Linked DNA regions of Homo sapiens. The protein of the gene in region 1 purifies or fractionates together with the protein of each later gene. This does not show direct contact. Each region holds a gene or a part of one and is shown in the gene's direction. Other genes may lie near its edges.

What was found.
Region 2: the proteins of ARPC5L (region 1) and CAPZB purify together in Homo sapiens (co-immunoprecipitation; 3 studies listed by BioGRID and IntAct, with this or other methods). This does not show direct contact.
Region 3: the proteins of ARPC5L (region 1) and HCN1 purify together in Homo sapiens (co-immunoprecipitation; one large-scale study listed by IntAct). This does not show direct contact.
Region 4: the proteins of ARPC5L (region 1) and ARPC3 purify together in Homo sapiens (affinity purification with mass spectrometry; 9 studies listed by BioGRID and IntAct, with this or other methods). This does not show direct contact.

What each region holds. Positions count from the first base shown.
Region 1 is NC_000009.12:124,865,120-124,868,661, forward strand, and holds part of ARPC5L (actin-related protein 2/3 complex subunit 5-like protein), read left to right. Parts: intron 1-3,308; 5' UTR 3,309-3,542. UniProt on the Homo sapiens protein: May function as component of the Arp2/3 complex which is involved in regulation of actin polymerization and together with an activating nucleation-promoting factor (NPF) mediates the formation of branched actin networks.
Region 2 is NC_000001.11:19,479,040-19,482,581, reverse strand, and holds part of CAPZB (F-actin-capping protein subunit beta), read left to right. Parts: intron 1-3,542. UniProt on the Homo sapiens protein: F-actin-capping proteins bind in a Ca(2+)-independent manner to the fast growing ends of actin filaments (barbed end) thereby blocking the exchange of subunits at these ends.
Region 3 is NC_000005.10:45,259,381-45,262,922, reverse strand, and holds part of HCN1 (potassium/sodium hyperpolarization-activated cyclic nucleotide-gated channel 1), read left to right. Parts: intron 1-112; coding exon 113-1,002; 3' UTR 1,003-3,542. UniProt on the Homo sapiens protein: Hyperpolarization-activated ion channel that are permeable to sodium and potassium ions. Displays lower selectivity for K(+) over Na(+) ions.
Region 4 is NC_000012.12:110,437,331-110,440,379, reverse strand, and holds part of ARPC3 (actin-related protein 2/3 complex subunit 3), read left to right. Parts: coding exon 1-68; intron 69-3,049. UniProt on the Homo sapiens protein: Component of the Arp2/3 complex, a multiprotein complex that mediates actin polymerization upon stimulation by nucleation-promoting factor (NPF).

The sequences.
Region 1 (3,542 bases):
CTGTACCTGGCCGGCATAGCTTAGTCTTAAATGAAAGTCTAGGCCGGGCGTGGTGGCTCACGTGGTGCACGCCTGTAATCCCAGCTACTCTGGAGGCTGAAGCAAGAGAATCGCTTGAACCCAGAGGCAGAGGTTGCAGTGAGCCGAGATCGGGCCATTGCACTCCAGCCTGGGTGACAAGAGGGAAACTCTGTCTAAAAAAAAAAAAAAAAAAAAAGGAAAGTCTAATGGTGCACAGTGCCTTTGCTGTTATATTTTTAAATGCTTAGAGTTAATGACTCTGCACATCTTTTTCGAACCTGAAGTCATTTGTGACTCTCTCTTACACGCCACATCTAGTCAACCAGTAAATTCCAGGTACTCTACCTTCAAAATTTACCCAACTTAAGGCCGGGTGAGGTGGCTCACGTCTGTAATCCTAGCACTTTGGGAGGCCAAGGCAGGTGGATCACCTGAGGTCAGGAGTTCGAGACCAGCCTGGCCAACATGGTGAAACCGTGTCTCTACTAAAAATACAAAAAAAATTAGCCGGGCATGGTGGCGGGTGCCTATAATCACAGCTATTCGGGAGGCTGAGGCAGGAGAATTGCTTCAACCCAGGGGGCAGAGGTTGCAGTGAGCCAAGATTGCGCCACTTCACTCAAGCCTGGGCGAAAGAGCAAAACTCCATCTCAAAAAAACAAAAAACAAAAAAAACAAAATTGGGACTGGGCGTGGTGGCTCACACCTGTAATCCCAGCACTTTGGGAGGCCAAGGCGGGCAGATCATGAGGTCACGAGTTCGAGACCAGCCTGACCAACATGGTGAAAACCTGTCTCTACTAAAAATATAAAAATTAGCCAGGCGTGGTGGTGTGCACCTGTACTCCCAGCTACTTGGGAGGCTGAGGCAGGAGAATCACTTGAACCCTGGAGGCGGAGGTTGCAGTGAGCTGAGGTTGGGCCACTGCACTCTAGCCTAGGCGACACAGTGAGACTCCCTCTTAAAAAAACAAAAAAACAGGTCAGGCGCAGTGGCTCACGTCTGTAATCCCAGCACTTTAGGAAGCCGACGCAGGTGGATCACCTGAGGTCAGGAGTTTGAAACCAGCCTGGCCCACATGGTGAAACCCTGTCTCTACTAAAAATACAAAAATTAGCCAGGTGTGGTGGCAGGTGCCGGTAATCCCAGCTACTCCAGAGGCTGAGGCAGGAGAATCACCTGAACCCTGGAGGTGGAGGGTGCAGTGAGCTGAGACTGTGCCACTGCACTCCAGCCTGGGCAACAGAGTGAGGCTCCATCTCAAAAAAAATGAATAAAATAAAACAAAATAAGAAATTGGTGGGGCACGGTGGCTCATGCCTGTAATCCCAGCACTTTGGGAGGCCGAGGTGGGCAGATCACCTGAGGTCAGGAGTTCAACACTAGGCCAGCCAACATGGAGAAACCCCGTTTCTACTAAAAATACAAAATTAGCCAGGCATGGTGGCGCATGCCTGTAATCCCAGCTACTCGGGAGGCTGAGGCAGAATTGCTTGAACCCGGGAGGCAGAGGTTGCGGTGAACTGAGATAGCCCCATTGCAGTCCAGCCTGGGCAATAAGAGCAAAACTCCGTCTCAAAAAAATTAAAAAAAAATTTACCCAGCTTGTTCCCACCATCCTCATTGGCCCCTGCCTGGTTGGGCTACCACTGTCTGTCCCCTGGATGGTTGCTGTCACCATCTAAATCACCTCTCTACTTTGGTTCTCGATCCCAGATGTGTTCTCAATACAGCTGCTTAGAAGGCCCTTTTCAAACAATTCAGACTTCTGATCTATTACTGTTCTGCTCAGAATTTCCAGGGCTGTCCCATTTGAATTAAGACTGAGTCCTTTCCTCGGCCTACAGAGCCCTACTCTCCTCCCAACCCCCACCTCATCTCTCTTCTGTTCCTGGCTGTTTCTCGAATATACTGAGCCCACCCCAACCTCTGAGCCTTCGCTTAGTTGCCTCCTTCATTTCCTTCCAGTCTCTGTCTAGTGTCACCTCCTCAGGGACACCTTTTTTTTTTTTTTTTTTGAGATGGTATCTCACTCCATCGCCCAGGCTGGAGTGCAATGGTGTGATCTCAGCTCACTGCAACCTCTGCCTCCTGGGTTCAAGCGATTCTCCCCGCTCAGCTTCCCGAGTAGCTGGGATTACAGGTGTGCGCCATCATGCCTAGCTAATTGTTGTGTTTTTGTAGAGATGGGTTTTCACCATGTTGGCCAGGCTGGTCTCGAATTCCTGACCTCAGGTGATCTGCCCCCTGGGCCTCCCAAAGTGCTGGGATTACAGGTGTGAGCCACTGCGCCCGGCCAGGACACCTCCTTTGATCACTTTATCTAAGGCACACTCAGGCACTGCATGGTTTTTTTCCCTCTCAACACTGTCAGCCCTGACATCGTATAATATGGATTTTTAAATTGTGTCTCCCTGGCTGGAATGAAAGTCCATGACCATGAGCTGGGACATTATTCCATTTACTAGTTTCTTTGGGGGCTGTTTCTTTACTTGTAAAATGGGCATTTCTGGGTTCAAGTTCCTTCTGACCAGGATGTTCTGGGGATATGAATTTCTGCTGTCTCGTGGCAGACCTGAATCACAAATATTTTTTCCCAGATATGGAACTGTATTGCAGGTGGGCTTTGCATGTTTCCAGGACCCCTGAGACTTTTCTTTTCTTTTCTTTTTTTTTTTTTTTTTTGAGACGGAGTTTTGCTCTTGTCGCTCAGGCTGGAGCGTAATGGCGCGATCTCAGCTCAGTGCAACCTCTACCTACCGGTTTCAAGCGATTCTCCTGCCTCAGCCTCCCGAGTAGCTGGGATTACAGGCATGCGCCAGCACGCCCGGCTAATTTTGTATTTCTAGTAGACACGGGGTTTCAGCATTTTGGTCAGGCTGGTCTCAAACTTCTGACCTCAGGTGATCCGCCCACCTCGGCTCCCAAAGTGCTGAGGATTACAGGCAGAGACTTCTTCACCACTAGTTTCCCACTATGGGAGTCTGTATCCTTACCACCGAAGATAAGGTTGCATCATAGTCTGGCAATATTTTTTTTATCTTTAGACACAGTTCAATGAGAGGTATTCGAAGCAGCAAAAATGAATCACATTCCAACTACTGACTTTTATTAAAAAGAGTACTATTAGATGAAAATAGTTTTCACACTATTATATAAAAAGACCCATTTTACTTACCCTAAGGCTAAGATCAATTAACAGAACCCCTGGGATAACAGCCCAGGCACCAAATCTGGCACCTCAGAGTCGTCCTTGACTTCCCTAAACCGCTTTCCCCCATCTCAGATTCTGAGAATTTGGTTTCTGTCAAGATGTGCCTCTCCAGCCAGGCCTCTCCTGCCAGGACGGTGGCCACAGGGCCATCTCCCTCTCCTGGCGCCCCCAACTGCCTGGCCAAGGTGACTGCTACACACGTGGGGTCGCAGAATCCCTCGAGTCACAACGTCTTCAACGTCTTGTCAGTCCCGTGATCGCACTAAACGTATTTAAAGCCCCCTACTCCTTTAAGAGGGTCACCTC
Region 2 (3,542 bases), on another chromosome or scaffold:
TACCACTGTCTGAGTGCTGTACAATTTCAGAGCACCGTTCCTTACACAGCTTCAGTTTCTGACTTGGGAATTATTCTTAGTTATGATGATGGTGAGGCTTTAGCAGGAACGGGGACTAGGGAGGCCCCCTCAGGAATTGCTGCTCCAGCTCACAGATGGTTTTGCCTGGCAGGAGCTGATGGGAACTTGGTATTGTTACAAGGTGAAACAACATAGTTGACATTAATGTCTCTTGATGTGGATAAGACACATTGTTCAACTCACATCCCTCTTGTCTGTCTATACAGCCCTGTTCATTTAAGCCCACCTGGCCTCTTTTTGGTGGCATGCTTATAAAAAGTAGGCAGTGATCAGTGGCTTGAGATTAAGGAAATGATAAGCCGTGTCTTTGAAAGCAGATGCTCCTATTTATAACTCAGACATCCTATACTTTTACATTCCATGAGGTGGGGAACAGGACATGACTGACCACAGGGAAATGGTGGCAGGGCAGGTGCCTCGCCCGTTAGAAGCCTGCCCTCCCTCCAGGCTGGGAAATGCTTATTGTTAGGCAAATACTGAGGCATGTTGTGGGGTACCTGCAGCTACAGGATAATGTTAATTCAGCTTTTTGTGTATTAAGTGCCTACTCTGTGGTGCTTATGTGCTGAGGATGCAAGACAAGGATCTCTGCCCTCATGGCTCACATTGTTGAGGGGTGGGGATGTCATCGTTACCTAAAGCTTAAGGGGGAAAGAGCCTTGTTCAGTGTACCTGCAGGCACATCTGCATGAGCTATGGCAGGAAACTGAAGAGAAAGCTGGGGGCTTGTGCCAGGCTCCACTCCCAGGCCTTTTGGGGTGTGTCTTCTCTTGTGTCTGCCATTGGGTGGAATTGGATTGCACGTGCACGCAGTCCGCTCCTCTGCACAGCCAAGGCTTTCTGGGGCCCCGAAATGAAACCTTACAGTACCTTGGAAGTCCAGCCTGGGTAGCTTTGTCCAGCCTGTCCAACCCGGGTACCCGAGGATCTGCTGTGACCCAGAAACATGACTTAGGTTATAGCCCAGCCCCCATTTTACTCACAAGGAACCTGAAGCTTGAGAGCTTGAGTGACCGGTGTGAACAGCAGGCCTGGGATTCGGATCCCTGTCAGCCCAAGTCATGTGCTGGACCCCACTCACTGTGTTTTCCAGAACACAGTGAGCAGAGGGCCCCGTAAATACAGGATCTTGTCCCATTTCCCCTTGCAGCAGATCCACCAGTGAGGGTGCGGTGTGGAATTCCAGGGGATGCAACTGCAAGATCACCCATATTGGGACCAGCTAGAGCCATATGCTATTTCCAGACCTAGGCTTTCACAGATTCATGTTTCAGTGGAAGGAAAGGGAGGTTTAATGGTTATGGAGCACCAGCCACATGCTATGCACTCTGTTAGAACGGTCCTCACCACAGCCTGACAAGGTAGGTTCAACTTTAGGCTGGAGGCAGCATAGTACAAGAAAATAGAGTTAGGAGCCAGACTGCTTTAGGATAACAGTACCTCTGCATAAGGTCGTAATGAGGGTTAAGTAATATCTGTCAAGTGCATCCAGTAGCATCTGGCACATAGTGATGTAAACATTAACTATTGTTATTATCACCATTTTCCAAAAGTGTGCAAAGGGGTGTATGGTTAGTCCCTGTCTAGCTACTAAGTGGAGGAATTGGGTTTTCTGACTCCAGAGCAAACCGTTTTTCTCCACTCCGTACTGCCTGCCGATGGCTGCTTTGGAGTTTGTCTGGCTCTGGGTTGTGCCTTGAACGCACAACTTACCTAATAGAGCCTGGGGCTCTTTTCTCCATTAAAGACAAGCTCACTGTGAGCTGGGCACCATGTGTTGCCAGAGCCTCATGCTATATGTCAGGCCCGAATTCCTTGTTTGTGCCAGTGGAACCCCCTGTGACTGGAGGGTTCCTGCCCTCTTCCAGGCTTGGAAGAAGAGAGACAGGGCTGGGGACAGAGCATATGAGCTCTGTGAGAGCAGGGACCTTGTCTGTTTGGTTCCCTCTGAGTACCCCACACCTTGCACTGGCCGCCTGGCACTTAGCGCCAGCTACATAAACACTGAGTGAGAGCTGAGAGGCGGCTGCCTGCTCCACAGAACATGGTCTCTGCAGTTGGGCACATCTGGATTTGAGTCCTGTCTGCCACTCAGCATGTGACTGTCAGTGAGGCGGCTAATTCCCTTGGTCTCAGTTTTCCTGTTCCGTCGCATGAGGATAACATTTTATAGAGATGGGGAGTAGGGGTGAAATTTGTAATGTACTTACTCCAGTGCTTGGCACACAGTAGCTGTGGTTGTTGCATGTCTTATTCTGCATACCACAGAATAAGGGACACAAATAGAAGCCATCATCCCTGTCCTCTAATCTGGGAGGGGGAGGCAAGATGCGTCCAAAAAGCCAAGTGCAGCAGGAATGAAGTAGTACTAGAAAAGACTTAGCCAGGGACCCATGGGTGCTGTGGTCTGCCCATCCCTGCAGGCCTGGCTTGCATTTCCCCCTCCTCCACGCAGCCCTGCAGACCACTCCAGCCTGCAGTCGGCTTGGGGGCTGGGCATGAAGCCTGGGAAGAGTGTGCTCAGGCAGAGAGGACAGGGTGGGGTATGGTCAAGGGGACTGGCACAAAAGCAGAGGTCAGGGGGTGTGGTCACACAAGCAGTAGATGCGAGCCCATGGGGTGCCTCAGTCTCAGGAGTGAGTTGTGGAGTGCCTGAGTTGCTAAGCTAAGGAGTTTGCATTAGATCTGGGACAGTGTGGAGCCAGTGAAATTTTTGACAGGGCAGGTAGAAATTCGAGGAGGCTGGCAGAGCGGTGGTATTTTAGGAAGAGCCCTCTGGCTGTGCATGCAGGAGGCCTGGGAGGTGAAAGAGATGGGAGAGAGGCCTCCACAAGCATCAGCTTGTGAGCTTATGAGGGTCCTGGCCACTGTGCAGCTGTGGGTGTGGAAAGGAAGGGATGGTGGAAGGAGATAAAGGCAGAGTGACACGGAATGATTTACCACCTCTGGAGCTGAGGGGGTCTGCCCCAGAGCTGTCCCATGTAGGTGTTCTGATTGGACAGTTTATCATTGACACACAGCTATTTCAGGTCAGTCTAAATCCTAGATAGTGGTGTCTGCAAAGCCTTGAGAGCCTGTTAACAACTGAATGGGGATTTCAGTCTGGGTAGCCCAGTGATCCATCCAGCCAGTGACTCTGTGACTGCAGGTGGCACCAAGTTCAGCCTGATGCACACAGCATTAGGTTCTGGTGCCTAAGACACCAGTCTGCTGAGGGAGATGGTGGGGTGGCGGGCTCTGCATGGCAGCTGTAGGAATAACAGAAGCTAGTTTTTTTTTGTTTGTTTGTTTGAGACAGAGTCTCGCTCTGCCACCTAGGCTGGAGTACAGTGGCACGATCTCGACTCCCTGCAACCTCCGTCTCCTAGACTCAGGGAATTCTCTTGCCTCAGCCTCCCAAGTAGCTGGGACTACAGGTGCGTACCACCATGCCTAGCTAATTTTTTGTATTTTTAGTAGAG
Region 3 (3,542 bases), on another chromosome or scaffold:
AGCCTCTCCTGTGAAGCACAGCTATACTTCTGTTTGCAGGAGCCACTCTCACTTGGCGTTGTCATCAGTCATTGGTAGGCTTTCTAAGTGCCTATCTTTCTTTTGCTGACAGGAAAGAAAAATTCAATTCTTCTGCAAAAGTTCCAGAAGGATCTGAACACTGGTGTTTTCAACAATCAGGAGAACGAAATCCTCAAGCAGATTGTGAAACATGACAGGGAGATGGTGCAGGCAATCGCTCCCATCAATTATCCTCAAATGACAACCCTGAATTCCACATCGTCTACTACGACCCCGACCTCCCGCATGAGGACACAATCTCCACCGGTGTACACAGCGACCAGCCTGTCTCACAGCAACCTGCACTCCCCCAGTCCCAGCACACAGACCCCCCAGCCATCAGCCATCCTGTCACCCTGCTCCTACACCACCGCGGTCTGCAGCCCTCCTGTACAGAGCCCTCTGGCCGCTCGAACTTTCCACTATGCCTCCCCCACCGCCTCCCAGCTGTCACTCATGCAACAGCAGCCGCAGCAGCAGGTACAGCAGTCCCAGCCGCCGCAGACTCAGCCACAGCAGCCGTCCCCGCAGCCACAGACACCTGGCAGCTCCACGCCGAAAAATGAAGTGCACAAGAGCACGCAGGCGCTTCACAACACCAACCTGACCCGGGAAGTCAGGCCACTCTCCGCCTCGCAGCCCTCGCTGCCCCATGAGGTGTCCACTCTGATTTCCAGACCTCATCCCACTGTGGGCGAGTCCCTGGCCTCCATCCCTCAACCCGTGACGGCGGTCCCCGGAACGGGCCTTCAGGCAGGGGGCAGGAGCACTGTCCCGCAGCGCGTCACCCTCTTCCGACAGATGTCGTCGGGAGCCATCCCCCCGAACCGAGGAGTCCCTCCAGCACCCCCTCCACCAGCAGCTGCTCTTCCAAGAGAATCTTCCTCAGTCTTAAACACAGACCCAGACGCAGAAAAGCCACGATTTGCTTCAAATTTATGATCCCTGCTGATTGTCAAAGCAGAAAGAAATACTCTCATAAACTGAGACTATACTCAGATCTTATTTTATTCTATCTCCTGATAGATCCCTCTAGCCTACTATGAAGAGATATTTTAGACAGCTGTGGCCTACACGTGAAATGTAAAAATATATATACATATACTATAAAATATATATCTAAATTCCCAAGAGAGGGTCAAAAGACCTGTTTAGCATTCAGTGTTATATGTCTTCCTTTCTTTAAATCATTAAAGGATTTAAAATGTCGTTGTAAGATTATTTATTTCTAACCTACTTTTACTTAAGTCCTTTGATATGTATATTTCTCTATTTTATGAAGAGTTCTTGGATTCAATGGAAACAAAACTGATTTTAAAAAGGCAACTCAAATGAACTAGTAAATAGCACCAATCAAAACTTTCTTTCATTAGCTGTGTCTCTGCATCTAAATTGTTAATCATTAATGGTGGAGAATTAAATAACAAATCCCATTTTATAGATCTAAATTGTATTTCGGTGCTTTCAATTTCAAATTAGGTTAAAGAATGCACTACTTGCTTGGCCACCGTAGGAGACTAGCATTGCCACTGTTTGTTAAGAATATCACTAACCTCAAACATGTTCATTGATCTTTCAGAAAGCTGAGGGAAAATTAATATTTGTCTTCATGTGTTATCGGACTTTTACCAAGACTCGATCAATGTTAGTTGTAAATAACTTTTTCAACCCAAATAAAAATAGCTATTCTGTGTTGTATGAAGGTAAAAGTCATTGTTTAAGAATTTAGTTTTATTGCTTCACTTCAAAACTTAGAGTTTTAAATTTTACAAAACCTGATTGTGAGAATTATTCAATTGTAATGCAATGGCTTGAAACCTACAATATTATTTTAACCTGCAATGTTTTATGCAAAATTGTATGCTCGAATCTACAAATTGCTTGTATTACACCAAAAATCGTTACTTTTCTTTCTTCTTGCCATAATCAAGCATCTGAAAATAGTCCCTGCATGCTTCTGGGGAAAAAAAAATAGGTTCAAATCAGTCATTGTAGAGAAAGGCTTACAGTATTTCTCGTTTCTAGAAAAGCATAACAATTCATTAATTGCCTATCTTATAATTCCTATAAGGCTGACTTGGATCTCTGACTTAAGTCTAGAAGTGAGGTTTTCACTTTTATTTAATATTATTGCTATTATTATTTAAATAATTATTTGTAAACCACAGCTTGATTTGGAGTTAAGTGTTGTCTGTGTCTTCACTGTAGCTGGTAATTTACTATGGTATTAATTTAAAGAAATAAATTCAATACAGCATCACGTCTGTTTGGGAACACACATTTTGCTCTATGTATATTGTAACTAAATGGTTAGTAAACTTTAAGGCATGTGGTGACTAACGTAGCCCTTAGATAGGAGGTTTGTCATTTTTAATGTGTTGAAAATAGTACAGACATGGTGACAGAAAGCAGGGGTAAAGTTGAACGTCTATGAGCATTGTCTGTCTGTTTTCTTAACTCTTTACATGATCTGTGAGCACCTGCTTCTTCTCAAAGAACTCCCTTAGTAATCATTTGTGCCTAATGCATCCCACACATGTGGAGTATGACTGGAACACAATTGAAAGATTCCTAACAACTGGCTGCGGTAAATAACCCAAGTTAAGAGCATGACTTAAAGTGGAGGTCTTCAGTATCTCTGGCACTGGCAATACATTTAAGAACATACAGAGATCACACATTATGTGGGACAGGGCCTGCAGATAGACTTGAGGACAGAAAACAAAAACAAAAGCAGAAACTCTAAAGTGGATCCTTGCTGCCTGTTATGCCTTTTGTGGATATAATACCTATAATACCAAAATGAGTTGTTATGTTTAATTTCAAACAAATCCCAACTGGTGTGGAAGTAATTAACTGCTAGTCGATGTAATGTAATCATCAATATGCTGGTGACATATGATGGCATGTCAGGAATACTGTTGTAAGAAAGGGATTGTTCAGTCTACCTAGAACCTATGGGAAAGCTGCAAGACCATTTACATATCAGTACAAAACTCCTTTATTTTATTAAAATATGAGAATTAACTTCAATTTATTAAGATTACGTATTGGTCCTTTAAATTATTAAAGGTTTACATTTGATAGGATTAATGGATTTGGTAGTGAAATATTTTTATATATATAAATTTTTGGTTTTTTATTTTGAGCACTATTGGGAAACATAAGCAAAATTGAAATGCATGGTCTTTCAGTGCAACCATACAATTTTTATTCACTTTGTAATAGAATGGACAAAAAAACTAAGGTTTATATATTAAACTAATAAAAAGGTACAGGGTAAATTATATACATATATGTATGAATGTATATATACTTAGATTAAGAAAAAAAAATGACTCACATTCCTGTAATATAAAGGTCCATTGCTAGTTGAAAAGTGACCTCTTTTCTCTGTACATAGTGAAGCCCGTATGTATGGAGTTTTAATCTGTACAGAAAGAAATGTATTATTCATTGGTCTTTCTGCTGCTGGAAAGATA
Region 4 (3,049 bases), on another chromosome or scaffold:
CAGATATTGTGGATGAAGCCATCTATTACTTCAAGGCCAATGTCTTCTTCAAAAACTATGAAATTAAGGTAAATTACGGAGCTTTTAATATTTAACTTAGTTTTCTCATAGGGATAATACCAACCTTGCTATCCAGATTGCTGTGAGGAGAAAATAAAATGAAATCAGCATGTAATTTTTAAATTCGAGAGCAGTGCTTAATGTTAGCTTTTGTATAAATATTAGTTTCTTTTTTTTTCCTCCAAATTCTATACCAGGGGTTGGCAAACTCTAACCTGAGGGCCACATTTGGCCCACTGCCCCTTTTTATGAATAAACCTTTATTGGAACACAGCCACAACCATTTGTTTCTATATTATCTATAGTTACTTTCACACCAAAACAGCAGAATTGAGTAGTTGTGACAAAGACTGTATGGCCCACAAAACCTAAAAATACTGCCTGCCTTTTACAGAGAAAGTTTGCCAACCCCTTGCTAGAAGTATCTTTATTTATTCAACATTAGTTAAGCAGCACCTACTATGTGCCAGCCTTTTGTTTTGTTTTGAGACAGGGTCTTGCTCCGTCGCCCAGGCTAGAGTGCAGTGGCACAATCACAGCTCACTATACCGTCAACCTCCTGGGCTCAGACAGTCCTCCTGCCTCAGCCTCCCAGGTAGCTGGAACTACAGGCATGCACCACCACACCTGGCTAATTTTTTGTATTTTTAGTAGAGACGGGGTTTCACAATGTTAGGCAGGATGGTGTCTCGATCTCCTGACCTCATGATCCGCTCACCTCAGCCTCTCAGTGTGCTGGGATTACAGGCGTGAGCCACCGCTCCCGGCCCTAAAATGGAATTTCAGCCCCTCCTTGCCAAACTCTGAACTTCTGGAATCAAACAGGTTGTGAATTATTTATTTGTAGACTCTTGGTGTACAAATTGTAGTCTAAACATTCTGTGATGGTAATAGAATGTTTTCTATATCTCATGTGTGGGTTAAGTTTGTAACAGTTATAAATGTTACAATTCTCTGGGCACATTGCTTGAGTTCAGGAGTTCGAGACCAGCCTGGGCAACATGGCGAACCCCCGTCTCTACAAAAAATAGAAAAATTAGTGCATGGTGGCTCACGCCTGTAATCCCAACACTTGGGAGGCTGAGGCGGGTGGATCACATGATGCCAGGAGTTTGAGACCAGCCTGGCCAACAAAGCGAAACCCCATCTCTACCAAAAATACAAAAATTAGCCAGGTGTAGTAGTGCATGCCTGTAATCCCAGCTACTCGGGAGGCTGAAGCACAAGAATTGCTTGAACCCAGGAGGTGATGGTTGCAGTGAGCCGAGATCACACCACTGCACCCAGCCTGGGCGACAGAGCAAGACTGTCTCAAAAAAAAAACAAAAAACTCTGCCACATTTCATTTGTTCCCAGATACTATATTGTCTTAAAAATAGGGAAATGTGGCTGGGCGCAGTGCCTCTGCCCGTAATTTGGGAGGCCAAGGCGGGCGGATCACCTGAGGTCGGGAGCTTGAGACCAGCCTGACCAACATGGGGAAACCCCGTCTCTACTAAAAATACAAAATTAACTGGGCGTGGTGGTGCGTGCCTGTAATCCCAGCTACTTGGGAGGCTGAGGCAGGAGAATCACTTGAACCCAGGAGGCAGAGGTTGCGGTGAGCCAATATCACGCCATTGCACTCCAGCCTGGGCAGCAAAAGTGAAACACTCAAAAAAAAAAAAATATATAGGAAAATGGTGTGGTTTGGGGGTAATTTTTTTGTTGTTTTTTTGTTTTGAGACAGAGTCCCGCTCTGTCACCAGGCTGGAGTGCAATGGCGTGATCTCGGCTCAGTGCAACCCTCGACTCCCGGGTTCAAGTGGTTCTCCTGCCTCAGCCTCCCAAGTAGCTGGGATTACAGGCACGCGCCACCACGCCAAGCTAATTTTTGTATTTTTTGGTAGGGACAGGGTTTCACCACGTTGGCCAGGATGGTCTCGATCTCCTGAGCTCGTGATACACCCACCTTGGACTTCCAAAGTGTTGGGATTACAGGTGTGGGCCACCGCACCCGGCCTTTTTTTTTTTTTTTTTAATTCGAGACAGAGTCTTGCTCTGTTGCCCAGGCTGCAGTGCAGTGGTACAGTCTTGACTCATTACAACCTCTGCCTCCTGGCTTCAAGCGATTCTGTGGCCTTAGCCTCCCTAGCAGCTGGGATTACAGGCGCACGCCACCATGACTGGCTAATTTTTGTATTTTTAGTAGAGACGGTGTTTCGCCATGTTGCCCAGGCTGGTCTCAAACTCCTGGGCTCAAGCAATCCACCCACCTCAACCTCCCAAAGTGCTGGGATTACAGGCATAAGCCACTGCACCTGGCCTAAATTTGTGTAAAATTTGACCCAAAGTCCATACCACATTTGATCAACATTCATTTGTCTTCTCCACATTTTCTTTTTGGTTAGGTCAAGACATTGAGATTATGGAGTTCTTTGGGAGCAAGTCAAATGTGAAATAGTTGCTTCCTCCTTTAGAGTAATGACTATTTCTGTTCTCGGCAGAGACCCTGAAGGGAAGGGTTTTTAAAAATTAGCCAACCATATGGAGCAGTTCAGGCTTTCCAGGCAGCTTTGTTACTTCTTCCTATACAGTGAGGGGCTGTTGACACAGATCCTTGGGAACCCTGGGGCAAGGGGAGCCGAGAAAAACAAGAGAGAGCAGCCACTCAGCCGAGCGTGGTGGCTCATGCCTGTAATCCCAGCACTTTGGGAGGCTGAGGTGGACAGATCACTTGAGGTCAGGAGTTCGAGACCAACCTGGCCAACATGGTGAAACCCCGTCTCTACTAAAAATAGAAAAATTAGCCAGGCGTGGTGGCGGGCACCTGTAATCCCAGCTACTCGGGAGGCTGAGGCAGGAGAATTGCTTGAACCTGGGAGGTGGAGGTTGCAGTGAGCTGAGATTGTGCCACTGCACTCCAGCCTGGGCAACAGAGCAAGACTCCGTCTCAAAAAAAAAAAGCAGCTGCACATCTCAGAGTGGGGCTTGTGCCTTCCTCCCAGGG